Linked DNA regions of Homo sapiens: regions 2, 3 and 4 are each linked to region 1. The links come from fine-mapping of genetic effects on gene expression. A gene starts in region 1. Each other region holds a variant in brackets. All regions are shown on one strand. Distances are from middle to middle.

What was found. PIP is the estimated chance that this variant, and not a neighbour inherited with it, causes the effect. A credible set is the group of variants that fine-mapping cannot tell apart.
Region 2: its variant is the best candidate, but not a certain one, in a credible set for the expression of NAPSA in whole blood (TOPMed, PIP 0.67).
Region 3: its variant is the best candidate, but not a certain one, in a credible set for the expression of NAPSA in whole blood (TOPMed, PIP 0.55).
Region 4: its variant is the best candidate, but not a certain one, in a credible set for the expression of NAPSA in whole blood (TOPMed, PIP 0.50).

Annotation. Positions count from the first base shown.
Region 1 is chr19:50,361,784-50,369,628 of GRCh38, forward strand. It overlaps NAPSA (napsin A aspartic peptidase), which reads right to left and starts at 3,856. Exons shown (of 9, transcript NM_004851.3): 1 at 3,756-3,856; 2 at 389-530; 3 at 186-309. The coding sequence starts at 3,838. The region is part of intron 3 of LOC105372437 (a long non-coding RNA gene); the gene reads left to right. RefSeq lists enhancers at 4,057-4,206, 7,000-7,059.
Region 2 is chr19:50,420,982-50,428,826 of GRCh38, forward strand. SPIB (Spi-B transcription factor) reads left to right here. Exons shown (of 6, transcript NM_003121.5): 3 at 1,492-1,564; 4 at 1,842-2,056; 5 at 2,624-2,774; 6 at 7,057-7,845. The coding sequence ends at 7,355. Among named protein-coding and RNA genes, the nearest start is that of SPIB, 6.0 kb to the left of the region's middle. RefSeq lists enhancers at 6,676-7,249, 7,250-7,822, 7,378-7,667. The variant G/A (reference allele first, on the strand shown) is at 4,697.
Region 3 is chr19:50,387,843-50,395,687 of GRCh38, forward strand. All of the region lies in intron 1 of POLD1 (DNA polymerase delta 1, catalytic subunit), which reads left to right. Among named protein-coding and RNA genes, the nearest start is that of POLD1, 7.4 kb to the left of the region's middle. The variant C/T (reference allele first, on the strand shown) is at 3,955.
Region 4 is chr19:50,499,003-50,506,847 of GRCh38, forward strand. It overlaps JOSD2 (Josephin domain containing 2), which reads right to left. Exons shown (of 5, transcript NM_001270639.2): 4 at 7,376-7,570; 5 at 6,996-7,270. The coding sequence ends at 7,171. Among named protein-coding and RNA genes, the nearest start is that of JOSD2, 8.3 kb to the right of the region's middle. RefSeq lists silencers at 1,319-1,368, 1,469-1,518 and an enhancer at 2,329-2,992. The variant G/A (reference allele first, on the strand shown) is at 2,877.

The sequences.
Region 1 (7,845 bases):
AGGTTAGAGGTCAGAAAGGTGTCATGGGGGAGGGAATCTCCCCAGTGCCTACTGCCCCTTTGACTTTCTGACCTGTGAGGGCATGATAAAAGAACAGTTCCTCAAAAGCCTCTGAGAAGCTGAGGTCCAGCCCCGCCTCCTCCCTTCACCCCCATTCAGCCTTATTCTCCCACATAGAAGCTCACAGCAGGGCACACTGAAGAAGTGGCATCTCCTGGACGGGACCCAGAGATTGGAGGAGCCAGTGTCAAAGGCAACAGTGAAGTTTTGTGGAGGCGTTCCCAGCCCAATTTCCCCAAAATACTGCACCTGATAGCAAAAGAGGAGAGTAAACGAAGAGTTTGGCTCAAGGGCGCAGGGGTGAGGGCTGTGTGGGGCTGTGACTCACATCCCTGTAGTTCGAGAGAGGTACGAAGATGGGCTTGTCCCCAGGGGATGGGGCCCCCAACTTGGGGAGCTCTGCTGGTTCTCTCCATCCCCTCAGTAGGTTCAGGATCCTGCGTCCAGGTTGGACTCGATGAAGAGGGATGCTGTAGGGAAAGAGGATATTGACAGGAAGCTGCCCTTCTTGGAGAACCTCTAAATAGACTTACCCAAATAGGATATGATGACAAATTCAACATCTCCAAGGCACTACAATAGTAGTCAGTACCAGAAACCCTGCAATAACAACCTCCAGAAAAGCCCATCAAAGATGCCATGATGACAAATATCCCCAAAGACTTTACAAGAGCAAACCATCCCAAACAGACCTTTCCATGTCCAAATCCCTTAAAATAAGCTATTCCCAAGGAATTGACATTCTTAAAGATTTCCCAAGACCCTAACAGAAAACCTAACCTTTGCAAAAGCCCTTGGGTGGTGGCCCCTGCATGCTTCAGTTCGTGAGGTTAGGGACTATTTTCCCCACCCTTGAGGAGAAAAATGTAAGCGTCAAATCTTAATTGTCTTGCTGTGTTGCCCGTGCTGATCTCAAACTCCTGGCCTCAGCCTCCTAAAGTGCTGGGATTACAGAGGAGAGCCACTATGCCCTGTCCGGGTTCCTTTAAACTGTATTTGCAAAAGCAGGAGGCAAACAGGATTTGGCCCTTAAGCTGAGTGTTTGCAACCCTTGACTTAGAGGGCCAATTACAATTCAGGTATCTTAGTTGCTAATTAAGTAGGTCTAGGATGGAGCCGAGAATTTGGATTTCTAACAAGTTCCCAGGTCATGACGATGCTGTTGATACAACATTTGGAGACTCATTTTCTTTGCATTGACTTAGAAAATGGCCATGAGACATTAGGTTCAAAAAGCAGGTTAACAAGCACCATGTGCGGTAATATCTTCGTTCCTGCCTTTAGTCACTCCTTGAAGCACTTGTCACATCACTCACACCTTTCCCGTCACCCCCCATGAGTCAGTCTTTGAGAGGCACGAGAATGTGAAGTGGGGAAAACTCTTCCTGGAAGTGTACACCCCTCCCCCTACCAAGAGTTCCAGGGAATGAAGACAAGAGAGGAGAAAAAGAGAGATGGGGGCGGGGAGGGGACATCAGAGGTAAGGTAGTGGGAAGACTTCTTGCATAGGGTCCCCAAGATTGGATTTCTTTTTCTTCTTTTAAACTTTTTATTTGAAACAGGGTCTCCCTCTGTCACCCAGGCTGGAGTGCAGTAGTGCAGTCAGGGCTCACTGCAGCCTTGATCTCCAGGGCTCAAGTGATTCTCCCACCTCAGCCTCTGGAGTAGCTGAGACTATGGGCACACCACCACACCTGGCTTTTTATTTTATTTTATTTTATTTATTAATTTTTTTTTTAGACAAGGTGTCACCCTGTTGCCCAGCCTGGAGTGCAGTAGCAGGATCATAGCCCACTGCCCCCTCGAACTACTGGGCTCAAGCAATCCTCCTTCCTCACCCTCCTGAACTAGCTGGGACCATGGGTGTGCACCACCACACTGAGCTAATTTTTGTATTTTTTGTAGAGGTGGAGTCTGGCCATGTTGCCCAGGCTGGTCTCAAAACTCTTGGCCTCAAACAAGCTTCCCACCTTGGACTTCCAAAGTGCTGGGTTACAGGTGTGAGCCATGTCTCTGGCCAAAAACATGACTTCTTCAGGCCAGTTTGATGGGCGTGATGTGGGGGAGTCTCAGTTTAAATGTCACATATCTGGGGCTCGAAGATGGGAGGAGTGTGTCACAGGTCTGGAAACCACAGTACCTAATCATCAGAGCTCATAGTAGGGTCTGCAGAGACCTCTCAAAAACATGTCCTGGCCAGGCGCAGTGGCTCACGCCTGTAATCCCAGCACTTTGGGAGGCTGAGGCAGGCAGATCACGAAGTCAGGAGTTCAAGACCAGCTTGGCCAACATGGTGAAACCTCATCTCTACTAAAGATACAAAAAAAATTAGCCGGGCATGGTGACTCACGCCTGTAATCCCAGCACTTTCAGAGGCAGGAGAATGGTGTCAGCCTGGGAGGTGGAGGTTGCAGTGAGCTGAGATCGCGCCATTGCACTCCAGCCTGGGCGACAGGGCAAGACTCCGTCTCAAAAAAAAAAAAAAAAAAAGGCCAGGCGCGGTGGCTTACGCCTGTAATCCCAGCACTTTGCGAGGCTGAGGTGGGTGGATCACGAGGTCAGGAGATCGAGACCATCCTGGCTAACACTGTGAAACCCCATCTCTACTAAAAATACAAAAAATTAGCCGGGCGTGGTGGCGGGTGCCTGTAGTCCCAGCTGCTTGGGAGGCTGAGGCAGGAGAATGATGTGAACCCGGGGGACAGAGCTTGCAGTGAGCCAAGATTGCGCCACTGCACTCCAGCCTGGGCAACAGAGTGAGACTCAGTCTCAAAAAAAAAAAAAAAAAAAAAGTCCTGAGAGGAGGGGGAGGGGTCCTCAATCTAGAGTCTCAGTGTTGTAAGATCTGGGACTTAAAAGGGCTCTGGGACCGGACGCGGGGGCTCACAGCTGTAACCACAGCACTTTTGGAGGCTGAGGCGGAAAGATCACTTGAGGTCAGGAGTTCAAGACAGCCTGGCAAACATGGCGAAACCCCATCTCTACTAAAAATACAAAAATTAGCCGGGCGTGGTGGCATGTGCCTGTAGTCCCAGCTACTTGGGAGGCTGAGGCAGGAGAATCACTTGAACCCGGGAGGCAGAGGTTGCAGTGAGCTGAGATCGCCCCACTGCACTCCAGCCTGGGTAACAGAGCAAGACTCTGTCTCAAATAATAATAATAATAATAAATAATAATAATAATAATAATAATAATAAAAGGGCTCTGGTCAGCCAGGCGCGGTGGCTCACGCCTGTAATCCCAGCACTTTGGGAGGCCGAGGTGAGCGGATCACGAGGTCAGGGGTTCCAGACCAGCCTGGCCAACATGGTGAAACCCCGTCTCTACTAAAAATACAAAAATTAGCTGAGCATGGTGGCGCGAGCCTGTAATCCCAGCTACTTGGGAAGCTGAGGCAGGAGAATCGCTTGAACCCAGGAGGCAGAGGTTTCAGTGAGCTGAGATCATGCCATTGCACTCCAGCCTGGGCAACAGAGTGAGACTCCATCTCAAAAAAAAGAAATCTGGTCTTAAGAGATGTCAGAGTGGAGCCCTTAGGGGTGACAGCCTGGTTTAGAGATCTGGAAAGCTGAGAAAGAAGCTCTAGGGATCCTGGGTGCCAAGTTTGGGGATCACTGAACTGGGAGTCCTAGACTTAAAGGGCAAGAGGCAGAAAATCCCTCCTAAGGTTGGGGTGGTAGATGGGGTCACCATACCGGATCAGTGTGGCCCCGGAAGGCTCCACATTCAGCAGAGGCAGCAGCAGCAGCAGGGGTTGCAGCAGCGGTGGTGGAGACATCGCTGGGGACCTGGGTGTGAACCCAGGTGTCCTGGGGCCTCATTTTCTTTCCCCTGTGACTCCACCCTGTTCATGCCCCACCTCCAGGTTTAGAAGGAGACCAGGACATGAAATCTGTCCGCAGGTGACGCAGTGGGACAAGGATGTTTTTTGAAGATTTGTGCAGAGTATTTTTGTAGGGTTGGCAGAAGTAGCATCCTGTGCTCCTGGTGCTCCTCACTCCCTACTTGGGTGGCAGTGGTGGTGGGGTCTCCTCCACCGTCACCACCTCCCACCCCCCCATCCTTCAGCTGCTGTCAGTTTTACTTTTAACTTTCACATAACTTTTCTGAGACTTATTAACCACAAGTGTTTCCTTGGCCAAGTGGGAGAGACCAGCAGGTATCTGTGAAGGGCCTGGGGGAAGGGAGAAAGGACATGATTAGACACCTGCCCTCACATATGAAGTGGGCCCGCATTTCAGGACCCAGTCTCTTACTGTTTTATTTGTAGGTGAAGTATGTTTCTTGTTGACAACAGATCATTGGGTATTGTTTTTTGTTTGTTTGTTTTTGTTTTTGTTTTTTGGTTTTTTTTTTTTTGAGACCGAGTTTCACTCTTGTTGCCCAGGCTGGGATTACAGGCATGCGCAACCACGCCCCACTAATTTTGTAGTTTTAGTAGAGACAGGGTTTCTCCATGTTGGTCAGGCTGGTCTAGAACTCCCGACCTCAGGTGATCCGCCCGCCTCAGCCTCCTAAAGTGCTGGGATTACAGGCGTGAGCCACTGCACCCAGCTGATTCTCAATTATTTCAATCTCTTTGTTAAATTTATGTGATGGAATCTGAATTCCTTCTGTGTGTTAGCTTGAATTTCTTTGAGTTTCCTCAAAACAGCTATTTTAAATTCTCTGTCGGAAAGGTCACATATCTCTGTTTCTTCAAGGATTGGTCCTTGGTGGCTTATTTGATTTGTTTGGTAAGGTCATTTATTCTGGATGGCCTTGATGCTTATAGATGTTCATTGGTGGCTGGGCATTGATGAGTTATTTATTTATTTATTTATTTATTTATTTATTTATTTATTTAGATGGAGTTTTGCTCTTGTTGCCCAAGCTGCAGTGCAATGGTGTGATCTCAGCTCACTGCAACCTCTGCCTCCCAGGTGCAAGTAATTCTGCCTCAGCCTCCCGAGTAGCTGGGACTACAGGCACCCGATACCACCCTGGCTAAATTTTTTTTTTTTTTTTGAGATGGAGTTTCACTCTTATTGCCTAGGCTGGAGTGTAATGGCGCCATCTTGGCTCACTGCAACCTCTGCCTCCTGAGTTCAAGCGATTGTCCTGTCTCAGCCTCCCAAGTAGCTGGGATTATAGGCGCATGCCAGCTAGTTTTTGTATTTTTAGTAAAGACAGGGTTTCATCATATTGGTCAGGCTGGTCTCGAACTCCTGACCTCAGGTGATCCACCTGCCTCGGCCTCCCAAAGTGCTGGGATTACAGGCATGAGCCACCGCACCCAGCCTACACCCAGCTAATTTTTGTATTTTTAGAAGAGACAGGGTTTCACCATGTTGTCTAGCCTGGTCTCAAACTCCTGACCTCAGGTGATCTTCCTGCTTCAGCCTCCCAAAATGCTGGGATTAGACATGAGCCACCATGCCTGGCCATGTTAGGTATTTATTGTAGTCTTTGCAGACAAGGCTTGTTTGTACCTGTCCTTTTTGGGGAGGCTTTCCAGGTATTCAAAAGTACTTGGGTGTTGTGATCTAAGCCATGTCTGCATTAGGGGGCTCCCCAAGCCCATTAATGCTGTGGTTCTTGCAAACTCATAGAGGTACTATCTTAGTGGTCTTAGATAAGATCCAGAAGATTTATCTGGATTACCAGGCAGAGACTCTTGCTCTCTTCCCTTGCTTTCTCTCAAACAGAGTCAGTCTCTCTCTCTCCCTCTCTCTCTCTCTCTCTCTCTCTCTCTCTCTGTCTCTGTCTCTCTCTCTCTGCTGAGCTACCTGGAGCTGGGAGTGGGGTGACACAAACACCCCATGCCTACTATCACTGGGATTGCGCTGGGTCCTGCCCATGGCCTCCTGTAACCACGACCTACCTGCCTACTGCTTATGTTTGCTCAAGGCCCTTGGGCTCTAAAACTAGCAGGTTCCAAAGGCAGCCATGCTTGCATCCTTCCCTTCAGGGCATCAAGTTACCTCAGGTCCCAGGTGGGTCCAGAGATACAGTCAGTGAGCCAGGGACTGGAGTCAAAACCCTTAGAAATCGGCTGGATGCGGTAACTCATGCCTGTAATCCCAGCACTTTAGGAGGCTGAGGCAGGCGGATCACTTGAGGTCAGGAGTTCGAGGCCAGTCTGGCCAACATGGTGAAACCCTGTCTCTACTAAAAATACAAAAATTAGCCAGGCGTGGTGGTCAGCGCCTGTAATCCCAGCTACTCGGAAGGCCGAGGCAGGAGAATCACTTGAACCTGGGAGGCGGAAGTTGCAGTGAGCCAAGATCGCGCTGCTACACTCCAGTCTGGGCGACAGAGCAAGACTCCCTCTCAAAAAAAAAAAAAAAAAAAAAAGAAACAAAAGAAAGGCTAGGTGCGGTGGGGGTGCGTTTGGGAGGCTGGGGGTGTCATCCCAGCCCTTTGGAAGGCTGAGGCAGGAGGATCGCTTGCGCCTGGGAGTTGGAGACCAGCCTGGGCAACAAAGGGAGACCCTGTCTGTACAAAAAAAATGTAAAAATTATCTGGGCGTAATGGCACACTCCTGTAGTCCCAGCTACTGGGGAAGGTGAGGCTGGAGGATAACTTGAGCCTAGGAGGCTGAAGCTGCAGTGAGCCGTCATCACGCCACTGCACTCCATCCCAGGTGACAGAGTGAGACACTGTCTCAACAGAAATAAATAAATACATAAATAATGGTAAAGATCCACTTTGTGCACTCCTTGCTCTGGGGGATTTTCCTGAAGCAGCCGAACGTGTCCCTGATAACTGTCACCACCCCCCTTTGTTTTCTCAGTCAGAGCACTCGATCTGGGCCCCTTCAACTCGCCCCGCACGCTTTCCGTCTGCAGCACCCCATCCAACTGCACCCAAGCGCCCTTAAGTAGTTTGAGAGGCCGTGCCTGCAAATTCCCAATTGGCCACAAGGTGGAGGTGTGGGCCTGTTTTCCCAGCCAAGATTCCCCAGCCGCCACCCGTTTCTAGAGCTGGACCCCTGGAACACCAGGCTCTCTCCAGCTTTCCTGCTTCCGCCCTAGCAGTTCCCACCGCCTGGAATGCCGACTTGCTCGCTCTCTGCACCCCACGGGAAAAGGAGCAGAACAGGCTTCCTCCCTGACTCCCCTGCCCAAGCGTACTGGGAGATCTCCTGCCGAACACGGCCCGGCCAATGGGACCTGGATCTCCCCATGTCTTGTCTCTCAGGGGGTTGTGACCGAGTGGGCCTCCACCATCAGAGGAGCACAGTTTCCAGAATCGCCCAACACAATCTTTCCCGAATCCCCTCAGGAAGTGATTAGGTAAAGGATTGCCAGATTTTTAAACCCGTCATTTTATTTACTAACCTTGTAAGAAAGGAATTATCGCCCACATTTTACCGGGTTGGGGAGGGGCTGCTGCGGTGCAGCAAGATTAAGAGGAGGCAGCCCAGGTGCACTTGGAGGGGAATTGAACCTGGTTCTTGAAGCTGCAGACACCAAGTAATCAGCCCAGATGCCTCGCATCGTCTTTGCCAGGATTACTTTTGCCCCTGTTCCATTGGTGGGAATCTGTCACGTGGTTGCTCCTGGCTGCAAGGACGACCCGGAAATGTAGTCCAGTTGTGTGTCCAAGAGTGGGGGACCCTTTGGGTGACTCTCAGGCACTGTGGGCCACATCAGACCCCACAAGGCCTCAAGTTCGGACCTGCGTTCCCTCTATGATCTTATATCGCACCTTCCCGAGGTCTCGCATTAGTGTTTTTTTTTTTTTTTTTTTTTTTTTTTTGAGGCAGAATCTCGCTCTGTTCAGGCTGGAGTGCAGTGGCTG
Region 2 (7,845 bases), 59 kb after region 1:
CTGGCTTCCCTCACTCAACATGAAGTGTGTGTCAGTGTTTGTCCTTTTTCCTTGCTGTATAGTACTCTATCTATGATCAGCCCACACCACAGTCTGTTTATCCCTTCTTCTGTTGATGACACCTGGGCTGTTTCCAGTTGGAGACTCATAATAAAGCTGCTGGGATGATTCTGGAACAAGGCTATTTTGTGCACATCCATTTTCAGTTCTCTTGATTAAATGCCAAGGAGTGAGACTGCCAGGTCCTAGGCATGGTGTGGATCTAGCTTTAGTTTTTCCTAGACTCGAGTTCTTGAAGCAACAACACATGATTCATGGGGCGAATCAACATATGGAGATTTATTTATTTATTTATTTATTGAGACAGAGTTTTGCTCTGTCGCCGGGCTGGAGTACAGTGGTGCGATCTCGGCTCACTGCAACCTCAGCCTCCTGGGTTCAAGCGATTCTCCTGCCTCAGCCTCCCAAGTAGCTGGGACTACAGGTGCGCACCACCATGCCTGGCTAATTTTTGTATTTTTAGTAGAGACGGGGTTTCACCATGTTGGCCAGGCTGGTATCGATCTCCTGACCTCATGATCTGCCTGCCTTGGCCTTCCAAAGTGCTGGGATTACAGGCATGAGCCACCATGCCCGGCCTATTTATTTTTCGAGACAGAGTCTCACTCTGTCACCCAGGCTGGAGTGCAGTGGCGCGATCTCAGCTCACTGCAACCTCCACCTCCCAGGTTCAAGCGATTCTCCTGCCTCGGCCTCCAGAGTAGCTGGGATTACAGACATCTGCCACCAGGCCCAGCTAATTTTTGTATTTTCAGTAGAGATGGGGTTTCCCCATGTTGTGCAGGCTGGTCTCGAACTCCTGACCTCAGGTGATTCACTGGCCTCAGCCTCCCAAAGTGCTAGGATTACAGGCGTGCGCCACCACGCCTAGCTAATTTTTGTATTTTTAGTAGAGACGGGATTTCACCATGTTGGCTAGACTGGTCTTGAACTCCTGACCTCAGGTGATCTGCCCGCCTCGGCCCCCCAAAGTGTTGGGATGACAGGCGTGAGCCACCACGCCTGGCCTGGAGGTGTATTTAAAAAGCATTGACCCCTGCCTCTGTTAAGTGAAACACTTCCATTTCCCCTTGCCCTTCACCTCCGGAGCCCCCAGGCAGGCAAGGCTGGGGGAGTTCTTCCACCCCTTCTCCAGGCGCCCTGATTCGCTGACTGTGTGCCAGTGAGGGGCCAGGGTTCTTGGGAGCCCACCGTCTTAGCAGGAGCTGGCTGCTGTGTGCCCCTATTGGGTTGTGTCTCTACTCTCTGTATCTCTGTCTCTTTGTCCCTGTCTCTGATGCCTAGTCTCTGTGTTTCTTTGTTGCTCTAATCTCTCCAGCATCCCCTCTTCTCTCCCATGTCTGTGTTGGAGTCTCCCCAAGGGTCCAGGGTGGGGGTTGGGAGTCCCCAAGGCCTGGGATGACCCCTCTTCCCTCCTGCACCCCGTATCAGTACCCAGATGGCGTCTTCTATGACCTGGACAGCTGCAAGCATTCCAGCTACCCTGATTCAGAGGGGGCTCCTGGTGAGTGACCCCAGCCCTGTGCCCTTCCTGCCTTGGGGCCCATTTCACAGATAGGGGAGCTGAGGCCCAGGGGAGGTCATTTCCTAGCACAACAGGATAAAGGTGGCCCGGGCCTATAGCCCTCCTCCCCTTTCCTCTCCTACCCATCCGCTCCTCCATGCAAATCCTGGGGTCAGAGATTTGCACAGCCTACAATGGCCTCTCTGTGCTGGGGGCTTCGACTGCGAGGAGGCCTCCGTGAGACATCCCAGCTTCTGACTCAGTGCCCTTCCCCCAGACTCCCTGTGGGACTGGACTGTGGCCCCACCTGTCCCAGCCACCCCCTATGAAGCCTTCGACCCGGCAGCAGCCGCTTTTAGCCACCCCCAGGCTGCCCAGCTCTGCTACGAACCCCCCACCTACAGCCCTGCAGGGAACCTCGAACTGGCCCCCAGCCTGGAGGCCCCGGGGCCTGGCCTCCCTGCATACCCCACGGAGAACTTCGCTAGCCAGGTGAGTGGTAAGGGGACAGTTAAAATCAAGCCCAAACCAGGTGTGGTGGTGCACGCCTGTAATCCCAGCTGCTTGAGAGGCTGAGGTGGGAGGAGGATTGCTTGAGCCCAGAAGGTCGAGGCAATCCACTGCACTCCAGTCTGGGCAACAGAGCAAGACCCTGTCTCAAAAAAAAAAAAAAAAAAGAAAAAGAAAAGAAAACTCAAGCTCAGTCATTTGGTTGAGGTTTGCTGGGTGCCGGGCACTGCATTGAGACTGCACATAGTAAGCCCTGCAGCGGCCTCCCAGGTTACGTTCCGTTGTTGCCCCTCTGAACAAGTGAGTCAAGAGAGGTAGTGACAGGAAGCCAGGGACAGGGCAGACTCGCATTACCTGTGTTGGGCCGGCTTTGAGGAGGTACCTCAGGTGTCCCCTGGCCACAGCGTGGTGATCTGAACAAAGGCCAAAATCTAGGCTGTCAACAAAGAGGGAGACCAGAGCCAGGAGGGCCACCGCCTTGGCCTGAGAGGAGGAAGTGGAGGGAGACAAGGGGTCCCTGGACATGCAGGTGACCCTGACCTTCCGCAGACCCTGGTTCCCCCGGCATATGCCCCGTACCCCAGCCCTGTGCTATCAGAGGAGGAAGACTTACCGTTGGACAGCCCTGCCCTGGAGGTCTCGGACAGCGAGTCGGATGAGGCCCTCGTGGCTGGCCCCGAGGGGAAGGGATCCGAGGCAGGTATGCGGGAGTGGCTGGGGTGGGGGAGATGCCAGCTGGAGATGGTGGGGGGGCTGAGAGCACCATGGCTTCCTGGGCCTCTACATATACTCCAGCACTCTGGGCAGCTCCCAGATCCGCACCACCTGCTGGCTGTGTGACCTTGGGTAAGTGCCTCTACCTCTCTGTGCCCAGGTTTCCTGTCTGTGCGATGGGGATGGAGGTGATAGTGTCTACCCTCCTGAGGTCGTTGGGGGGACTAAATGGGATAGTAAGTGTAAATGGGACAGCAGTGCCAGGCACAGAGTGAGCACTTCAATAAGTCAACCTCTTCACCATCATTCCCGACACCACAGCAACAGAAATGATAATGCTATCAACCCCCAACGGTTCAACCCTTGCCCCCTGCCCGTGTGCCCAACATCCTTTATGCTCAACCCCAAGAAAGCTGAGATCGTTCCTTCCTTTCTGTGTCTGGGCCTCGGTTTCTCGTCTGTAAAGTGGGCATCACTGTCATCCTCCCCATCTCACGGGGTTATGATGGAGATTCAATGAGCTCATAACTGTAAAGTGCCTTGTGAAGCACCTGGCACTACATGCTCCACGGTGCATTGTAAAAATCAACACACAGGCTGGGTGTGGTGGCTCACGCCTGTAATCCCAGCACTTTGGGAGGCTGAGGCGGTCAGATCAACTGAGGTCAGGAGTTCGAGACCAGCCTGGCCAACATGGCAAAACCCCGTCTCTACTAAAAACACAAAAATTAGGCTGGGCATGGTGGCTCATGCCTTTAATCCCAGCACTTTGAGAGGCTGAGGAGGATGGATCACGAGGTCAAGAGATCGAGACCATCCTGGCCAACATGGTGAAACCTCACATTTACTAAAAATACAAAAATTAGCTAGGCGTGGTGGTGTGCACCTGTAGTCCCAGCTACTCGGGAGGCTGAGGCAGAAGAATCGCTTGAACCCAGGAGGCAGAGGTTGCAGTAAGCCGAGATCTTGCCACTGCAGTCCAGCCTGGCGACAGAGTAAGACTCTGTCTTAAAAAAAAAGAAAAAAGAAAGAAAAAAAAATTAATGGGGCATGGTGGTACATGCCTGTAATCCCAGCTACTCAGGAGGCTGAGGCAGGAGAGTTGCTGGAACCCAGGAGGCAAAGGTTGCAGTGAGCTGAGATTGCACCACTGGACTCCAGCCTGGGTGACAGAGCAAGACTCCGTCTCAAAAACAAACAAACAAAACCACAGCCTCATTTAAAAAATTTTAATTAATTAATTAATTTATTTTTTGAGACAGAGTCTCGCTCTGTTACCCAGGCTGGAGTGCAGTGGCACGATCTCGGCCCACTGCAACCTCCACCTTCTGGGTTCAAGCAATCCTCCTGCCTCAGCCTCCGCAGTAGCTGGGATCACAGGCACCCACACCATACCCAGCTATTTTTTGTATTTTTAGTAGAGATGGGGTTTCACCATCTGGCCAGGCTGGTCTCAAACTCCTGACCTCAGGTGATCCGCCCGTCTCGGCCTCACAAAGTGCTGGGATTACAGGCGTGAGCCACTGTGCCCAGCCACACAGCCTCATTTGTGGCTGAGAGACTTCAGCTCAGAGAGGTTAATTAAGTCACCTATTTTAACTTAGGACATTTAAGATGGAGAGGATCTCTCCAATGACTAGGAAAGACACAAGATGGAAATAAAGATTTTATTTATTTTTATTCATTTATTTGAGACGGTCTCCATCTGTCACCCAGGCTGAAGCGCAGTGGCGCAATCTCGGCTCACTACTGCCTCAAACTCCTGGGCTCAATCGATCCTCCTGCCTCAGCCTCCTGAGTAGCTAGGACCACAGGCGTACACCACCACACCTGACTAATTTTTAAAATTTTTGTAGAGGTGAGGTCTCGCTATGTTGCCCAGGCTGAACTCCCAACTCCTGAGCCTAT[G/A]TGCTCCTCCCACCTCAGCCTCCCAAAGTGCTGAAGTTACAGGCATGAGCCACCACACCCAGCCAGAAATAAATTATTTTATGGCTTATAGGTCCTGGGGCATACATGGCACGCCTGGAGGCCACACACACCAGGTCAGGGAGCGCAGGCAGGGAGGGAGAGAGAGAGGGACCAGTGGACTGACGCCTTTATTGGGTCCAAGGCGTCGGCCAAACAGGTTTCCTGAGGGGGTTTTAATTGGTGGGTTCAGGCCAGGCACAGTGGCTCATGCCTATAATCCCAGCACTTTGGGAGGCTGAGGCTGGTAGATCACCTAACGTCAGGAGTTCAAGACCAGCCTAGCCAACATGGTGAAACCCCGTCTCTACTAAAAATACAAAAATTAGCTGGGCCTGGTGGTGCACGCCTGTAATCCCAGCTACTTGGGAGGCTGAGGCAGGAGAATCGCTTGAATCCAGGAGGCAGAGTTTGCAGTGAGCTGAGATCATGCCACTGCACTCCAGCCTGGGCAACAGAGCAAGACTCCAGCTCAAAATAAATAAATAAATAAATACTTGGTGGGTTGAAAGCAAGCAGGATCAAGTTCCAGGAGGTCACGCTGTGCCTGAGAGGGGGTCACTGAGGCATCTGCACAGTCCATGCAGGGCCGTCAAGTAGGCTGTCCATGGCTCTCCCACAGGGAGGTGGTCACCAGGAGTCAGTTGCATAAGAGAGATATCTGGGTCAGCCACACTGAGGAACTCGGGGAGGGAGATGTAGAACTGCCAAGGAGGACAGCCCTGCTTCCAGCATGAGAATGTCCAACTTTTATTTAGTTTTATTTTATTTTATTTTGAGAGGGAGTTTCGCTCTTGTTGCCCAGGCTGAGTGCAATGATATGATTTCAGCTCACTGCAACCTCTGCCTCCTGGGCTAAAGTGATTCTCCTGCCTCAGCCTCCCAAGTAGCTGGGATTACAGGCATGAGCCAAGCACACCCAGCTAATTTTTGTATTTTTAGTAGAAACCGGGTTTCATCATGTTGGCCAGGCTTGTCTCGAACTCCTGACCTCAAGTGATCTGCCCACCTTGGCCTCCCAAAGTGCTGGGATCACAGGCATGGCCCACCGCGCCCAGCCTCCAACTTATACTTTCGATGAATGCCGAGGCAGCCTAAAATTATAAGAATTCAATCCGGGTGCAGTGGCTCACACCTGTAATCCCAGCATTTTGGGAGGCCGAGGTGGGAGGATCACCTGAGGCCAGGAGTTCAAGACCAGCCTGGGCAACATAGTAAGACACCATCTCTACAAAAAATAAAACAATTAGCTAGGCATGATGGTGCATACTTGTAGTCCCAGCTACTGGGGAGGCTGGGGCAGGAGGATTGCTTAGGCCCAGGAGGTCGAGGCTGCAGTGAGCTGTGATTGCTCCTCTGCACTCCATCCTGGGTGACAGAACGAGACCCTGCCTTGAAAAAAAAGAAATTAAGATGTCACTACGTCACCACCCCAAGGTCACACTGCTGTAAAATGGCAGAGATGGGATTCTTGTAGCCAGTGCCCTGCTTTGAAACTCCCAGTTATTGGCCGGGCGCAGTGGCTCATGCCTGTAATCCCAGCACTTTGGGAGGTCGAGGTGGGCGGATCACCTGAGGCCAGGAGTTCGAGACCAGCCTGGCCAACATGGCGAAACCCCGTCTCTACTAAAAATATAAAAATAAGCCGGGCATGGTGGCAGACGTCTGTAGTCCCAGGTACTCGGGAGGCTGAGGCAGCAGAATTGCTCGAACCCAGGAGGCAGAGGCTGCAGTAAGCCGAGATTGCGCCATTGCACTCCAGCCTGGGCCGCAGAGCAAGACCCCGTCTCAAAAACAAACTAAACCCTAGGAGCCCAGGAGTCAGGTGCCCTGGCCTCTCCCGGGACCCTGTCCCGCTTTGGGCTGAGAGGCTGGGAGACCAGGAGCTGGAGAGATAGCCAGGCCAATGCAACTGCCTCCAGATCTGTTCGCCTCTCCGTTATAATCCTTTAAGCGGCGCTGTCAACCCATTTCACAGATTCTTTCATCCACTAGCTCAACAAATATGGAATATTACGTGCTGGCCGCAGGGCGGAAGGCAGGACAGATGTAAATCTCGAAAATTAAAGCACAGAACGCGGAGGGGGCCTGGGGCTGACAGCTTCGGGCAGGGGGAGTGGCTTGCCCCCCCCCCCCCCCGTGGTGAGGGGCGCAGAGCCAGGTGTATGTAACAGCCACTTCCCTCACCCCACTTTTCAGATCCAGGAGATGGAGGCCGGGGTGGAAGTCTCGGAGGAGGGTGGATGGGGAAGGCGGGGCCTTAGGGACCCCTCACCTAACGCGTGCCCCCGACCCCACCGCAGGGACTCGCAAGAAGCTGCGCCTGTACCAGTTCCTGCTGGGGCTACTGACGCGCGGGGACATGCGTGAGTGCGTGTGGTGGGTGGAGCCAGGCGCCGGCGTCTTCCAGTTCTCCTCCAAGCACAAGGAACTCCTGGCGCGCCGCTGGGGCCAGCAGAAGGGGAACCGCAAGCGCATGACCTACCAGAAGCTGGCGCGCGCCCTCCGAAACTACGCCAAGACCGGCGAGATCCGCAAGGTCAAGCGCAAGCTCACCTACCAGTTCGACAGCGCGCTGCTGCCTGCAGTCCGCCGGGCCTGAGCACACCCGAGGCTCCCACCTGCGGAGCCGCTGGGGGACCTCACGTCCCAGCCAGGATCCCCCTGGAAGAAAAAGGGCGTCCCCACACTCTAGGTGATAGGACTTACGCATCCCCACCTTTTGGGGTAAGGGGAGTGCTGCCCTGCCATAATCCCCAAGCCCAGCCCGGGCCTGTCTGGGATTCCCCACTTGTGCCTGGGGTCCTCTGGGATTTCTTTGTCATGTACAGACTCCCTGGGATCCTCATGTTTTGGGTGACAGGACCTATGGACCACTATACTCGGGGAGGCAGGGTAGCAGTTCTTCCAGAATCCCAAGAGCTTCTCTGGGATTTTCTTGTGATATCTGATTCCCCAGTGAGGCCTGGGACGTTTTTAAGATCGCTGTGTGTCTGTAAACCCTGAATCTCATCTGGGGTGGGGGCCCTGCTGGCAACCCTGAGCCCTGTCCAAGGTTCCCTCTTGTCAGATCTGAGATTTCCTAGTTATGT
Region 3 (7,845 bases), 26 kb after region 1:
CAAACGCAGTCAAAGTCTTCCTCACACAAAACCCCCTGCACACGCTCACGGCTGCACCACTCACAAAAGGTGGAAGCAACCCTAATGTCCATCCACTGATGAAGGGATACGTCAGACGTGTTCTAGCCATACAGCGGAAAAGTACTCAGCAAAAAAGGGACACAGCACTGACGAAAGGCCGCCACACACATGAGCGATGAACACATTCAGAGAAAGCAGCCAGACACAAGAGGCTGCATATTCCAAGATCCCATTTATAGGAAATGCCCAGAATAGGCAGATCCATGGAGACAGAAAGTTAGATGAGTGGCTGCCAGGGGTGGGGGCAGATGGGCTGAATGCAGGGAGAGAGCTAAAGGATTTAGGCTTTTTGGGGTGATGAGAGAGTTCTAAAATTGACTGTGGTGATGGTTGCCTAACTCTGAACATACTAAATACCATTGAACTATATATACTTTAAATGGGTGAATTGTATAGTATGTGAATTATAGCTCAATAAAGCAGTTAGCAAATGAAGTCTTCTACCCTGTCCCCCAGGAAACCAGTTTCTTAGCTCTCCTTATAGAATGATGCATTAAAAGCAAATAGATTTATACATATGCCCTGCATTACAATAAAAAAGACGTCTACATACTCCCTGCATTACAATAAAAAAGACGTCTACATACTCCCTGCATTAAAAGCAAAAAGATTTCTACATACTCTTCTGCCCACCTTGTAAATTTGTTACTATTTTCATTTTATATATTTCCCCCTTAATATTTTGAAAAGTTTCAAACCTGCAGAGAAGGTACAAATTGAGTACAGTGAACAGCCATGGCCCTTTGCCTAGATTCACTGGCTGTTGGCATGACACCTCATTTGCTTTATGCTTTATCCAAGCACATGCATATACCTGTACCTTTTGTCCTTTTTTTGGCTGAACTATTTGAAAGTTGTGGTCATCATGATACTTCACCTCTGAAAACTCCAGCAGTTAACTCTTTTTTTTTTTTTTTTTTTTTTTTTGAGACGGAGTCTTGCTCTGTCACCCAGGCTGGAGTACAGTGGTGCGACCTTGGCTCACTGCAACCTCTGCCTCCCAGGTTCAAGCGATTCTCCTATTGCAGCTTCCTGAGTAGCTGGGACTATAGGCGCGCACCACCACATCTGGCTAATTTTTGTATTTTTAGTAAAGATGGGGTTTCACCATCTTTGCCAGGCTGCTCTTGAACTCCTGACCTTATGATCTACGTGCCTCTGCCTCCCAGAGTGCTGGGATTACAGGCATGAGCCACCGCACCTGGCCTCTTTTTTTTTTTTTGGTACAGTATTTTACTCTGTCATGCAGGTTGTAGTGCAGTGGGGTGGTCACAGCTCACTGCAGCCTCGACCTCCCCAGGCTCAGCTGATCCTCAGCCTCTCGAGTAGCTGGGACTAAAGGTGTGTGCCACCACACCCTGCTAATTTTTATATTGTTTATAGAGACAGGGTGTCACCATGTTGCCTAGGCTGATCTCAAACTCCTGGGTTCAAGCAATCCCCCTGCCTCGGCCTCCAAATGTCCTGGGATTACAGCCGTGAGCCACCGTACCTGGCCTCCAGCAGTCAGCTCTTAAGAACAGGGATGTCCGCCTGCAGAACTACAGTGTCATTGTCATCATCATGCAGTTTAACATGAGACAGTGACGTTATTGAATAGACGATTCTTATTTAGATCTGCCACGTGTCCCTGTAATATTCTTCAAGGCTATAAATAATTTCTTATTTTTTTTTTTTTTCCAAGACTGAGTCTTGCTCTATCGCCCAGGCTGGAGTGCAGTGGCACTATCTCGGCTCACTGCAACCTCTGCCTCCTGGGTTCAAGCCATTCTCTTGCCTCAGCCTCCCGAATAGCTGGAATTACAGGCATGCACCACCACGCCCGGCTAATTTTTTTGTATTTTTTGTAGAGACGGGGTTTCATTTTGGCCAGGCTGGTCTCGAACCCCTGACCTCAGGTGATCCGCCCGCCTTGGGCTCCCAAAGTGCTAGGATTACAGGCGTGAGCCACCATGTCCAGCCTGTTTTTTTTTTTGTTTTTTGTTTTGTTTTTTTTTTCTTTTTTGAAACAGAGCCTCATTGTCACCCAGGCTGGAGTGCAGTGGTGCGATCTTGGCTCACTGCAACCTCCACCTCCCAGGTTCAATCAATTCTCCTGCCTCAGCCTCCCGAGTAGCTAGGATTACAGGCGCCTGGCACCACGCCCAGCTAATTTTTATATTTTTAGTAGAGACAGGGTTTCACCATGTTGGCCAGGCTGGTCTCAAACTCTTGACCTCAGGTAATCCACCCACCTCAGCCTCTCATAGTGTTGGGATTACAGGTGTGAGCCACTGCGCCTGGCCAATAATTTCTTTTTTTCTTTTCTTTTCTTTTTTTTTTTTCAAGTTACATGAAGTAAATTTATTATTTACAGCTAGGCAACAAGGGAAAACCGAAGCATAGGATTCATTGTGAGCCAATCTCCCGAGACTCAGGAAGGTTGCCCCGGGAGGATGGAGTCTCATTTGTGTGTACCCCATTTGTACCTGGAAAGCAGACCATCTTGGGTTTTATATTCTGGAGGCAACATGACATGTTGGGCTAAAATGATGAAGGACATCCTGTTTCTAGGAGGGACTGGAACAGAGCCTGGGCTGTTTCAGCCAGTCCCTCCTTATCTCAGGATATTGCATTCCTAGCACATTCTACAGTTATTCTTGAGAACTATTTTTTTTTTTTTTTTAGTATTTATTGATCATTCTTGGGTGTTTCTTGGAGAGGGGGATTTGGCAGGGTCATAGGACAATAGTGGAGGGAAGGTCAGCAGATAAACAAGTGAACAAAAGTCTCTGGTTTTCCTAGGCAGAGGGCCCTGCGGCCTTCCGCAGTGTTTGTGTCCCTGGGTACTTGAGATTAGGGAGTGGTGATGACTCTTAAGGAGCATGCTGCCTTCAAGCATCTGTTTAACAAAGCACATCTTGCACCGCCCTTAATCCATTTAACCCTGAGTGGACACAGCACATGTTTCAGAGAGCACGGGGTTGGGGGTAAGGCCGTAGATTAACAGCATCCCAAGGCAGAATTTTTCTTAGTACAGAACAAAATGGAGTCTCCTATGTCTACTTCTTTCTACACAGACACAGCAACAATCTGATCTCTCTTTCCTTTCCCATTTCCCCCTTTTCTATTCGACAAAACCGCCATCGTCATCATGGCCCGTTCTCAATGAGCTGCTGGGTACACCTCCCAGACGGGGTGGCGGCCAGGCAGAGGCGCTCCTCACATCCCAGACGGGGCGTCGGGGCAGAGGCGCTCCCCACATCTCAGACGATGAGCAGCCGGGCAGAGACGCTCCTCACTTCCTAGACGGGATGGCGGCTGGGAAGAGGCGCTCCTCACTTCCCAGACTGGGCGGCCAGGCAGAGATGCTCCTCACTTCCCAGACGGGGTGGCGGCCGGGCAGAGGCTGCAATCTCGGCACTTTGGGAGGCCAAGGCAGGCGGCTGGGAGGTGGAGGTTGTAGCGAGCCGAGATCACGCCACTGCACTCCAGCCTGGGCACCATTGAGCACTGAGTGAGCGAGACTCCGTCTGCAATCCCGGCACCTCGGGAGGCCCAGGCGGGCAGATCACTCGCGGTCAGGAGCTGGAGACCAGCCCGGCCAACACGGCGAAACCCCGTCTCCACCAAAAAATACAAAAACCAGTCAGGCATGGCGGTGCGTGCCTGCAATCCCAGGCACTCAGCAGGCTGAGGCAGGAGAATCAGGCAGGGAGGTTGCCGTGAGCCGAGATGGCGGCAGCACAGTCCAGCCTCAGCTCGGCATCAGAGGGAGACTGAGAGGGGGGAGGGGGAGGGGGAGGGAGAGGGAGAGGTCTTTTTTTTTCCCACTCCCCCGCTCTTGTTGCCCGGGCTGGAGTGCAATGGCGCAATCTTGGCTCACTGCAACCT[C/T]CGCCTCCCAGGTTCAAGCGATTCTCCTGCCTCAGCCTCCCAAGTAGCTGGGATTATAGGCGCCCGCCACCATGACAAGCTAATTTTTGTATTTTTTTTAGTATAGACGGGGTTTTCACCACGTTGGCCAGGCTGGTCTTAATCTCCTGACCTCAGGTGATCGGCCTGCCTCAGCCTCCCAAAGTGCTAGGATTACAGGCGTGAGCCACTGCACCTGGCCCATCATTTTACTTTTTTAATCCAAGTTCTAACCTAGGATAACACACATTGTCATGGCAACTTTTTCATTTTTTAAGACATGTCTTGCTCTCTTGCCCAGACTGTATTGCAGTGGTGCAGTCATGGCTCACTGCAGCCTTCACCTCCCAGGTTCAAGTGATCCTCCCACCTCAGTCTCCCAAGTAGCTGGGACTGTAGGTATGCACCACCATGCTTAAGTAATTTTTAATTTTTTGTAGAGATTGACTAATTTTTAATTTTTTGTAGAAATGGAGTCTCACCATGTTGCCTAGGCTAGTTTCTAACTCCTGGCCTCAAGTGATCATCCCACCTCAGCCTCCCAAAGTGTTGGGATTACAGACGTGAGCCTCCTAGCCCAGGCAACTTACTTTTTCATGACATCGACAGTTTTAAAGATTACAGACCAGTGTTGTCACCCCTCACCTTGGATTCGTTTGTTTCTTTTTCTTGTTTTGTTTTGAGACAGAGTCTTGCTCTGTCACCCAGGCTGGAGTGCAGTGGCGTGATCGCAGCTCACTGCAACCTCTGCCTCCCAGGTTCAAGTGATTCTCCTGCCTCAGCCTCCCAAGTAGCTGGTATTACAGGCACCCACCACCACGCCTGGCTAATTTTTGTATTTTAGTAGAGATGGGGTTTCACCATGTTGGTCAGGCTGGTCTGGAACTCTTGACCTCAAGTGATCCACCCTCCTTGGCCTCCCAAAATGCTGGGATTACAGGCGTGAGCCACTGCACCCAGGCTGTTTGTTTCTTAATGACTAGAATCAGGGTAAACGTTTTCTTAGACATTGTTTTTCAACACAAAAGATAAAATTGTGAGTGCACCACTGTGCATCTTGCTTTATCTACTGAACAATGCCTCTTTGAGAACCTTCCCTATCAGTACACAAAGAGCTTCCTCATTCCTTTACACAGTTGCATAGTATTCCATTGAACGGACTTAACATATTTAAATAGCCCCCTGGGGGAGGACAGTTAGGTGGTTTCCAGTCCTTGGGGATTTCAAACGATGCTTCCGGAAATAACCTTATAAATGCAGTTTTTCTTATGTGATAATATATCTACAGTGTACGTCCCTAGATGTGGAATTGAGCCTCCAAACTTTTATGTTTATAATTGAGGTGGCATTTACATGGCGTGCCATGCCCAGGTCTCCAGTGTACAGTCAGCTGTATAGTGTGTTTTATCACCCCAGAAACCCCCTCATACCCTTCCCAGTCTCTCCTACCCTAGGAGCAGCCACTAGTCTGATTTCTAGCGCTGTAGATCACTTTAGTGTATTCTACAACTTTGTCTAAATGGTATTGTACAATTTTTATGGAGGTAAAATTAGCCATTTTAAAGCAAACAATGGCTGGGCGTGGTGGTTCATACCTGTAATCCCAGCACTTTGGGGAGGCCAAGGCAGGCAGATCACTTGAGCCCAGGGGTTTCAGACCAGCCTCAGCAACATGGCAAAACCCGTCTTTACCAAAAAACAATTGGCTAGGCATGGTGGCACGCATCTGTCTTCATAACTACTCAGGAGGCCAAGGTGGGAGGATCACCTGAGCCCGGGAGGTCAAGGCTGCAGTGAGCTGAGATCATGCCACTGCACTCTAGCCTGGGCAACAGAGTGAGATCCTGTCTCAATAAAGAGAGAAAGTAATAATAAAGCAAAGAATTCAGTTGGTACGTTCACAGTGTTGTACAACCATTACCTCTGTCTAGTTTCAAAACATTTCATCACCCCTACAGAAAACCCCATACTCCGTAAGCAGTCACTCCTCATTCCCCCAGTGTGCACTTTGCCTTCTGCACAGCCTGCTTTCAAGATTCATCCGTGTTGCATGTCTGTCAGGAGCTGGCCCCTCTCTAATGCTGAGTGTCTGTTATGAACCTCCCTGAACATTTCTAACATATACTCCATCAGTTCAGAATTTTTCCATGCTTATTTCAGGTCTAAGCTGTTGTACCAAGGAGCCCCCAAAACACAGTGGCCCAAGAAAGATACAAATTGATTTCTCCACATAACGCTTTGGAAGATAGGCAAGTGTGCAGGGTTGGCAGACAGCTTTGCTCTGGAAGGTTGTTGGGGAGCCCAGTGTTGTCCCTGTCCTTGTGGTTGGCTCTCCCACTACATCCATGTTCCAGCCACTGTGACGGGGAAGAGGGTGGGAGGATGTCCCAGTAGCTGCACACCTCATGATCACTCTCATTCCTGGAGGGAGAACTTAGTCACGTGGCCCTCCTGGCAGCGCACACTGGGAAATGTAGCCTTTGGCTGGGCAGCCTGTGGCCACTCCGGACACGCAGGGTTGGAGGGGTGTGTTCTATTGCAAAAAAGCAAAGCAAAGCCGGGCGCGGTGGCTCACACCCATAATCCCAGCACTTTGGGAGGCCGAGGCGGGCGGATCATCTGAGGTCAGGAGTTCCACACCAGCCTGGCCAACATGGTGAAACCCCATCTCTACTAAAAATACAAAAAAAAATTAGCGGGTATGATGGTGGACGCCTGTAATCCCAGCTACTCGGGAGGCTGAGGCAGGAGAATCGCTTGAAGCCAGGAGGCGAAGGTTGCAGTGAGCCGAGATCAGCCACTGCATTCCAGCCTGTGTGACCGAGTGAGACTCCGTCTAAAAAAAAAATAAGTAAAATAAAAAGGCAAAATGAGGACTGGATATGGGGCAACCGTTATGAGATCCAGGGATAGACAGCTGACCTGCTCACCTGCCTCTTCCCAGCCGCATCTAGGATCTGCCCTAGGTTCCAGTAATCCCCTCTGTCTCAGCCTGGACCCTGGGGGACAAGTACTTTGTTTTTGTTTGTTTGTTTTTTGAGACAGAATTTCACCCTTGTTGCCCAGGCTGGAGTGCAATGGCGCAGTCTTGGCTCACTGCAACCTCTACCTCCCAGGTTCAAGGGATTCTCCTGCCTCAGCCTCCCAAGTAGCTGGGGTTCCAGGTGTGCGCCACCATGCCCAGCTAATTTTTTTTTTTTTTTTTTTTAGTAGAGACAGGGTTTCACCATGTTGATAAGGCTGGTCTCAAACAACTGACCTCAAGTGATCCACCCGCCTCGGCCTCTCAAAGTGCTGGGATTATAGGTGCGAGCCACGGTGCCCAGCTGGGTACAGGTACTTTTTAAAAACTTCTTTCTCTGACAATTTCAAATTAACAGGAAGGTTGAAAGAATAAATAGTGTAGGCCGGGCGCGGTGGCTGGGTACAGGTACTTTTTAAAAACTTCTTTCTCTGACAATTTCAAATTAACAGGAAGGTTGAAAGAATAAATAGTGTAGGCCGGGCGCGGTGGCTCACACCTATAATCCCAGCACTTCGGGAGGCCGAGGCGGGCGGATCACGAGGTCAGGAGATTGAGACCACAGTGAAACCCCGTCTCTACTAAAAATACAAAAAAATTAGGCGGGCGCAGTGGCGGACGCCTGTAGTCCCAGCTACTCAGGAGGCTGAGGCGGGAGAATGGCGTGAACCCGGGAGGCGGAGCTTGCAGTGAGCCGAGATCGCGCCACCGCACTCCAGCCTGGGAGACAGAGCGAGACTCCGTCTCCAAAAAAAAAAAAAAATAGTGTAAAGAACACCTGCACGCCCTTTGCCCAGATCACCTGTTTCAACATTCTGTCCTATTTATGATTTGCATGGATGTTTCTTATC
Region 4 (7,845 bases), 140 kb after region 1:
AGAGGGAGAAAGAGAGAGAGGGAGAGAGAGAGACGGAGAGAGACAGAGGGAGAGAGGGAGAGAGAGAGACGGAGAGAGAGAGACGGAGAGAGGGAGAGAGAGAGACGGAGAGAGAGACAGAGGGAGACGGAGAGAGAGAGACGGAGAGAGGGAGAGAGAGACGGAGAGAGAGACAGAGGGAGACGGAGAGAGAGACAGGGAGAGAGAGAGACGGAGAGAGAGAGACAGAGGGAGAGAGGGAGACAGAGGGAGAGACAGGGAGAGAGAGAGACAGAGGGAGAGAGAGAGACAGGAAGAGAGAGACAGAGGGAGAGAGGGAGACAGAGGGAGAGACAGGGAGAGAGAGAGACAGAGGGAGAGAGAGAGACAGAGGGAGAGAGAGACAGGGAGAGAGAGACAGAGAGAGAGAGGGAGACAGAGACGGAGAGAGAGACAGAGGGAGAGAGGGAGAAAGAGAGGGAGAGAGAGACGGAGAGAGAGAGACAGAGGGAGACAGAGAGAGAGACAGAGGGAGAGAGAGAGAGAGGGAGAGAGAGACAGAGGGAGAGACGGAGAAAGAGAGGGAGAGAGAGACGGAGAGAGAGAGACAGGGAGAGAGAGACAGGGAGAGAGAGACAGAGGGAGACAGGGAGAGAGAGACACAGGGAGAGAGAGACAGAGGGAGAGAGAGAGACGGAGAGAGAGAGACGGAGAGAGAGACAGAGGGAGAGAGAGACAGAGAGAGGGAGAGAGAAGGAGAGAGAGAGAGAGGGAGAGAGAGACGGAGAGAGACAGAGGGAGAGAGGGAGAGAGAGAGACGGAGAGAGAGAGACGGAGAGAGGGAGAGAGAGAGACGGAGAGAGAGAGACAGAGGGAGACGGAGAGAGAGACGGAGAGAGAGAGATGGAGAGAGAGAGACAGAGGGAGAGACAGGGAGAGAGAGAGACAGAGGGAGAGAGGGTGACAGAGGGAGAGGGAGACAGAGGGAGAGAGAGACAGAGAGAGAGAGAGGGAGACAGAGACGGAGAGAGAGACAGAGGGAGAGAGGGAGAAAGAGAGAGAGAGATGGAGAGAGAGAGACAGAGGGAGACGGAGAGAGAGACAGAGGGAGAGAGAGAGACGGAGAGAGAGACAGGGAGAGAGAGAGACAGAGGGAGAGAGGGAGACAGAGGGAGAGAGAGACAGGGAGAGAGGGAGACGGAGAGAGAGAGGGAGAGAGAGACGGAGGGAGACAGCGAGAGAAGACGCGCGGAGCCTTGCGGCAGGAGGTCGAGGAAAGAACAGCCCCTCTCACCTGGCGTCGGTGGCAGCTGAACCCTGGGCCCGACTGTGCGATTTAAGGGGTGCCCTGGGGGTGAGACCGCCCCCCCACCCAACTGCCTTATCTGGCCAGACCCGGCTCTGTGAGCTAAATCGGGCAGCAGCTGTCACCACCAGGGGGTGTGGGACAGCTGTCCCCCTCCCCCCGCACCTGCCCTGCGCCTGCCTCTTGACCACAGCCCCTCCCTCTCCCTTTCTGCAGCCTGGGGGTGTGGAGAGGCCACTGGCATCTGTGCGGGGCGCCCCAGCCCCCTCAGCTCTGGGACAGGCCTGGCCGGGTGCCCTGGGGCAAGCGGTAGCCCTCTGAGTCCTGAGGCGCTCCCCTGGGAAGAGCAGTCCCAGCGGGTGGGGGCACAGGCGCTCTGCACTGTGAGGGGCAGACAGTAAGTGCTTAGTTGATGCAATGACCTGGTCTGTCCTGCCCGCTCTCACCTGCCAGAATATGGGGGTTGGGGCAGGAGGGAGTGGGAGCAGGAGGAGGTCAGCTGGCCCCTCTCCCCCCACCCCCAGCGCCCCCAGCTCCTCCTCCCGGGGCTCCTCACTCCGGACCTTATTTGGCCATAGCCCAGGACGCACCTGGGGGCCACAGCCCCGCCTGCCACTCAGGCCCAAGAATAGCAACACTCAGGCCCCCGCCAGTCTGTCTGGGACCTGCGATGGGACAGGCGACAGGCACAGGGTGGCAGGGAGGGGCCCAGGGGCACTGAGAGAAGGGGAGAGACACAGACAGAGGGGAGAGACAGCGAGCTGAGGAGAGACTGAGAGAGACCGTGGGAGAGACAGAGAGACAGGGTCAAAGAGACAGAGAGGGGTGGAGAGAAATGCCCAGCAAGAGAGATAGAGAAGGGAGGCTGAGACAGGCGAAGCGAGAGAGGGAGACACAGAGACAGAGGGGGTTAGCCAGGGGCCCGGGGCCAGACACCCAGATGGGGCAGAGAGCGAGACCCACACCAGCAGAGGCGTGGGGAGCCCGGTGGGCGGGCAGGAGGTGCAGGGATCTGGATGGGATGGGGCCAGAGCCGTTCGGGAGTCTGCAACCCCCAGCAGTTTCCCCTCCGGTGCTGTCTGGCTTTTAACTTTACGACCTGCCCTTTGACCTTGGGAAAACTTGCAAACCAGAACCTGCCACACCCTGGTCCATGCGCAGCCAGGGCTTTCATGAGTGTGTCCTGCGGGGCATCAGCTCCACCTTGCCAGGGGTGCATGGGCAGCTTGTGGGCTGCCTGGATGAACTGCCTGCCTGGGCGCATGGGCCTGTGGCTCCAGGAGGGGACACACCCCAAGCCAGGGACCCCTTGCCTCCCTGTGCCTGAGTCCCCCACTTCTGCAGGTGCCTAACGGGGATCCCCAGGTTCATCCAGGCCCCTGGACACCTTCCACTCATTCCTGCCTCCTCACCTCCCAGGGCCCACCAGCCTCAGACCCTCCTCTCTGTCGCCCTCAGGGGCCTAGCTCAAGCCCTGCCTCGCCCCTCCCAGCCTCCTCCCGGGCCTCCTGGCTTCTGGTTCCCCCTCCATTCTGTGCCTGCAGCCCCAGAGGGGTCTCTGCACCCAGAGCTGACCTGTCCTTCCCTTCTC[G/A]CAGCTCCCAGGCTGCCCTTGGAGGTCCCGCCTGGTTGGGTTCCTGGCCGGGACCCACCCTCCTCCTTCATCACCTCCTCAAATAACTCTGGCGATAAACAGCCGTGGCGTTCCAGGTCTCATCCGGGATGACTTCCAATTCTGGAGTGCCCTCCCGTGCCCCGCCAGCCTCTGCAGAGCCCTCCTCAGCCTTCCGTGGCCAGCCTTGTCTCTGGGCCATTTTATGCGACTTGCTTGTCCCGGGGTCCCTTCTCTGTTCTCTCGTCCCTGCAGTGCTCTGTGGGAACCCCATAAAAGCCCCCACTGCTGGGACAGAAACTCTTGGTGTCCCCTTGGGTCTCCCCACAGGGTGGGAGCTGGGAGGGTGGGCCGACACTTCCCGTCAGCACAGGCGTCCCTCCTCCGCTGTGGGGACCCTCGTGATGACCCGGGGCCCACCGGGGGATCCAGGACACTCTCCCTGTCCCAGTCCCACTCGCAACCTCACTCTCCCTTGGCCAAGTAACACAACATATTCACAGGCTCCAGGGATTAGGACAAGGCATCTTTTAACTGTATTTATTTTAATTAATTTTTTTTTTTGAAATGGAGTTTCACTCTTGTTGCTGAGGCTGGAGTTCAATGGCGCGATCTCAGTTCACTGCAACCTCCGCCTCCTGGGTTCAAGCGATTCTCCTGTCTCAGCCTCCCAGGTAGCTGGGATTACAGGTACCTGCCACCATGCCTGGCTAATTTTTTTTTTTTTTGAGACGGTGTCTCACTCTGTCACCCAGACTGGAGTGCAGTTGGTGCGATCTCGGCTCACTGCAACCTCCGCCTTGCAGGTTCAAGCAATTCTCCTGCCTCAGTCTCCTGAGTAGCTGGGATTACAGGCATGTGCCACCACACCTGGCTAATTTTTGTAATTTTAGTAGAGATGGGGTTTTCACCATGTTGGCCAGGATGGTCTCAATCTCTTTACCTTGTGATCCACCCACCTCAGCCTCCCAAAGTGCTAGGATTATAAGCGTGAGCCACTGCACCTGGCCTAATTTTTTGTTTGTTTGTTTGAGATGGAGCCTCACTCTGTCACCCAGGCTGGAGTGCAGTGGCACGATCTCCACTCACTGCAAGCTCCGCCTTCTGGATTCACGCCATTCTGCGTCAGCCTCCCCAGTAGCTGAGACTACAGGCGCCTGCCACCATGCCTGGCTAATTTTTTTGTATTTTTAGTAGAGACGGGGTTTCACCGTGTTAGCCAGGATGGTCTCAGTCTTCTGACCTCATGATCCGCCCGCCTCGGCCTCCCAAAGTGCTGAGATTACAGGCGTGAGCCACCGTGCCTGGTCTATTATATTTATTTTTATTTATTTTTTTGAGACAGGGTCTCACTCTGTCACCCAGGGTGGAGTGCAGTGATTCGATCATGGGTCACTACAGCCTCGACCTCCTGAGCTCAAGTGATCCTCCTGCTTTTGCCTCCCAAAGTGCTAGGGTTACAGGTGTGAGCCACCATGCCTGGGCTATTATATTTTGAGACAAAGTCTCTCTTACTCACGATCATGGCTAACTGCAGCCTTAACCTCCTGGGCTCAAGCAGTCCTTCTGCCTCAGCTTCCCAAGTAGCTGTGATTACAGGCGCAGGCCACCACGTCCCACTTATTTATTTATTTATGAGACAGAGTCTTCCTCTGTTGCCAAAGCTGGAGTGCAGTGGTGCAATCTCGGCTCACCAAAACCTCCACCTCCTGGGTTCAAGTGATTCTCCTGCTTCAGCCTCCCGAGCAGCTGGAATTACAGGCGTGCACCACCACACCTGGCTAATTTTTGTAATTTTAGTAGAGATGGGGTTTTCACCATGTTGGCCAGGCTGGTCTCGATCCCTTTACCTCGTGATCCACCCACCTCGGCCTCCCAAAGTACTGGGATTATAGGCGTGAGCCACGGCACCTGGCCTATTATTATTATTATTATTATTTTTGAGACGGAGTTTCACTCTGTCACCTAGGCTGGAGTGCAGTGGCACGATCTTGGTTCACTGCAAGCTCTGCCTTCTGGATTCACGCCATTCTCCTGCCTCAGCCTCCCCAGTAGCTGAAACTACAGGTGCCCACCACCACGCCCAGCGAATTTTTTTGTATTTTTAGTAGAGACGGGGTTTCACCATGTTAGCCAGGATGGTCTCAATCTCCTGACCTCGCGATCTGCCCGCCTTGGCCTCCCAAAGTGCTGGGATTACAGGCGTGAGCCACCGTGCCTGGTCTATTATATTTATTTTTATTTATTTTTTTGAGACAGGGTCTCACTCTGTCACCCAGGGTGGAGTGCAGTGATTCGATCATGGCTTACTACAGCCTCGACCTCCTGGCCTCAAGTGATCCTCCTGCCTCCACCCCCCAAGTAGCTGGGATCACAGGTGTGCACCACCATGCTTAGCTTATTTTAAAATTTTTTGTAGAGACGGGGTCTCACTATGTTGCCCAGGCTGGTTTCAAACTCCTGAGCTCAAGTGATACTCCTGCTTTTGCCTCCCAAAGTGCTAGGGTTACAGGTGTAAGCCACCATGCCTGGGCTATTATATTTTTGAGACAAGATCTCTCTTACTCACGATCATGGCTAACTGCAGCCTTAACCTCCTGGGCTCAAGCAATCCTCCTGCCTCAGCTTCCCAAGTAGCTGCGATTATAGGTGCTGGCCACCATGTCCCGCTTATTTATTTATGAGACAGAGTCTTCCTCTGTTGCCGAGGCTGAAGTGCAGTGGTGCGATCTTGGCTCACCAAAACCTCCATCTCCTGGGTTCAAGCGATTCTCCTGCCTCAGCCTCCTGAGTAGCTGGGATTACAGGCACCCGCCACTACAACCAGCTAATTTTTGTATTTTTAGTGGAGATGGGGTTTCACCATGTTGGCCAGGCTGGTCTTGAACTCTTTTTTTTTTTTTTTTTGAGACAGAGTCTCGCTCTGTTGCCCAGGCTGGAGTGCAGTGGCACAATGTTGGCTCACTGCAAGCTCTGCCTCCCGGATTCATGCCATTCTCCTGCCTCAGCCTCCCAAGTAGCTGGGACTACAGGTGCCCGCCACCATGCCTGGCTAATTTTTTTGTATTTTTAGTAGAGACGGGGTTTCACCGTGTTAGCCAGGATGGTCTCGATCTCCTGACCTCGTGATCTGCCTGCCTCAGCCTCCCAAAGTGTTGGGATTACAGCCATGAGCCACCGCGCCTGGCCAGTCTTGAACTCTTGACCTCGGGTGATCTACCCGCCTCGGCCTTCCAGAGTGCTGAGATTACAGGCGTGAGCCACCAGCCTCACATGCCACTTATTTTAATTTTTTTTTTTTTTAGAGACAGGGTCTTGCTATGTTGCCCAGGCTGGTCTCATACTTGTGGACCTCAGCCTCCCAAAGCACTGTGATTACAGGCATGAGGCACCACATCTGGCCAGGGTGTGGACATCTTTGGGGCCACTGTTCTGCCCGCCTGCCAATCAACGGAATAGAATCGAGAGTCAAGAAGTAAACTCAGGCATGGTGGCTCACACCTATAATCCCAGCACTTTGGGAAGCAGAGGCAGGCAGATTGCTTGAGGTCAGGAGTTCAAGACCAGCCTGGGCAACAAAGCGAGATCCCATCTCTACAAAAAAATTTAAAGAAAGTAGTCAGGTATGGTGGCATGCACCCGTGGTCCCAGCTACTTGGGAGGCTGAGGTGGGAGGGTCGCTTGAGCCCAGGAGTTCAAGGCTACAGTGAGCTGTGATTGACCCACTGCACTCCAGCCTGGGTGACAGAGTGAGACCCCTGTCTCAATCAATCAATCAAATAAAGAAGTAAACACCTGCTTTCTCCTTAGCAATGACCCCCGTGGAACCCAGGAGATCAAACTCATTTGTTTGCCACTGGTCTCTCTCCAGCACCGGAGGAGCGTGAGCCCCAGGGGGCACGGACTTGTGTTTTTTTCTGCTGTGTCACTGATGAGGAAACTGAGGCCCAGCAGTGAGAAACTGGCATGAGGTGGCAGAGAACCAGGAGGCCTCCTGGGCTCTCGGCCCCACACACCAGGGTGTCTGGCCTGTAAGGTAAGTGGGAGTCACTGAGTGGAAGGGGCCCCAGAAGGGTGGGGCCGTCAGACACAGGCCAGGCAGGCAGCAAATCAGCAGATTTATTGAGGCAGCAGCGGCAGTGGGGAGCAGGGGTGTGGGGAGGGGGCGGGGCCTCCCCAGGGTCCATGAAGTGCTGGCCTTTCCCAGGCATGCAGTGTGCGCAGCCGGAGGGGGATGCGCAGGGACTGCGCTGTGGGCGCCGATGGTCAGCCATGGTCAGTCTGTCCGCAGCCAGCTGCCCTTCTCCTCCACCTCCTTGGTCACTACCAGCAGCACCTCGCACAGGCCCTGGGCCAGCGCAGCCGCCAGGAAGGCCCTGGGTGGGAGAAATGGGGAGACTGAGGCTCGGCCAGCCTGGGCATTCCGTCTGGGGAGTGGGGTTTCAGGCCCCTGGTCTTGGAATCGCCTCTGTGGGGCTCACCTGACTCCGTCCTCATCCCCCAGGGCCTCGGGCGCCCGCAGCTTGGAGTCCAGGTTGTAGTAGACACCGTCCACCTGGCGCAGGGCCACCCAGTGCCGCCGGCGCAGCGGCAGTGACAGCAGCCCCAGCGACACGGGCGAGGGCAGGTTCAGGATCAGCCCCAGTACCTGGGGCAGGGCCAGCTGGGACAGGGGCCTGTGTGGGCAGGGAGGGGACACTGCCATCAGGGCCTGCTCCGCCCGCCGGTGAAATGTTGCTGAACATGTGGGGCCCAGGCTGGTGGTGGTGAGGGCCTCCTGAGCCCACCCAGAGGTGTTCCTTAATCAGCCACCCTGGTTCCCGACACTCATCCGTTCACCTGCCCACTCAAACCTCCCACCCATGCGGCCACCCAACCAGACCTCCCACCCACCCACCCACCGTCCACCCACCCACCCACCGTCCACCCAACTCACATCGGCCCTTCACCA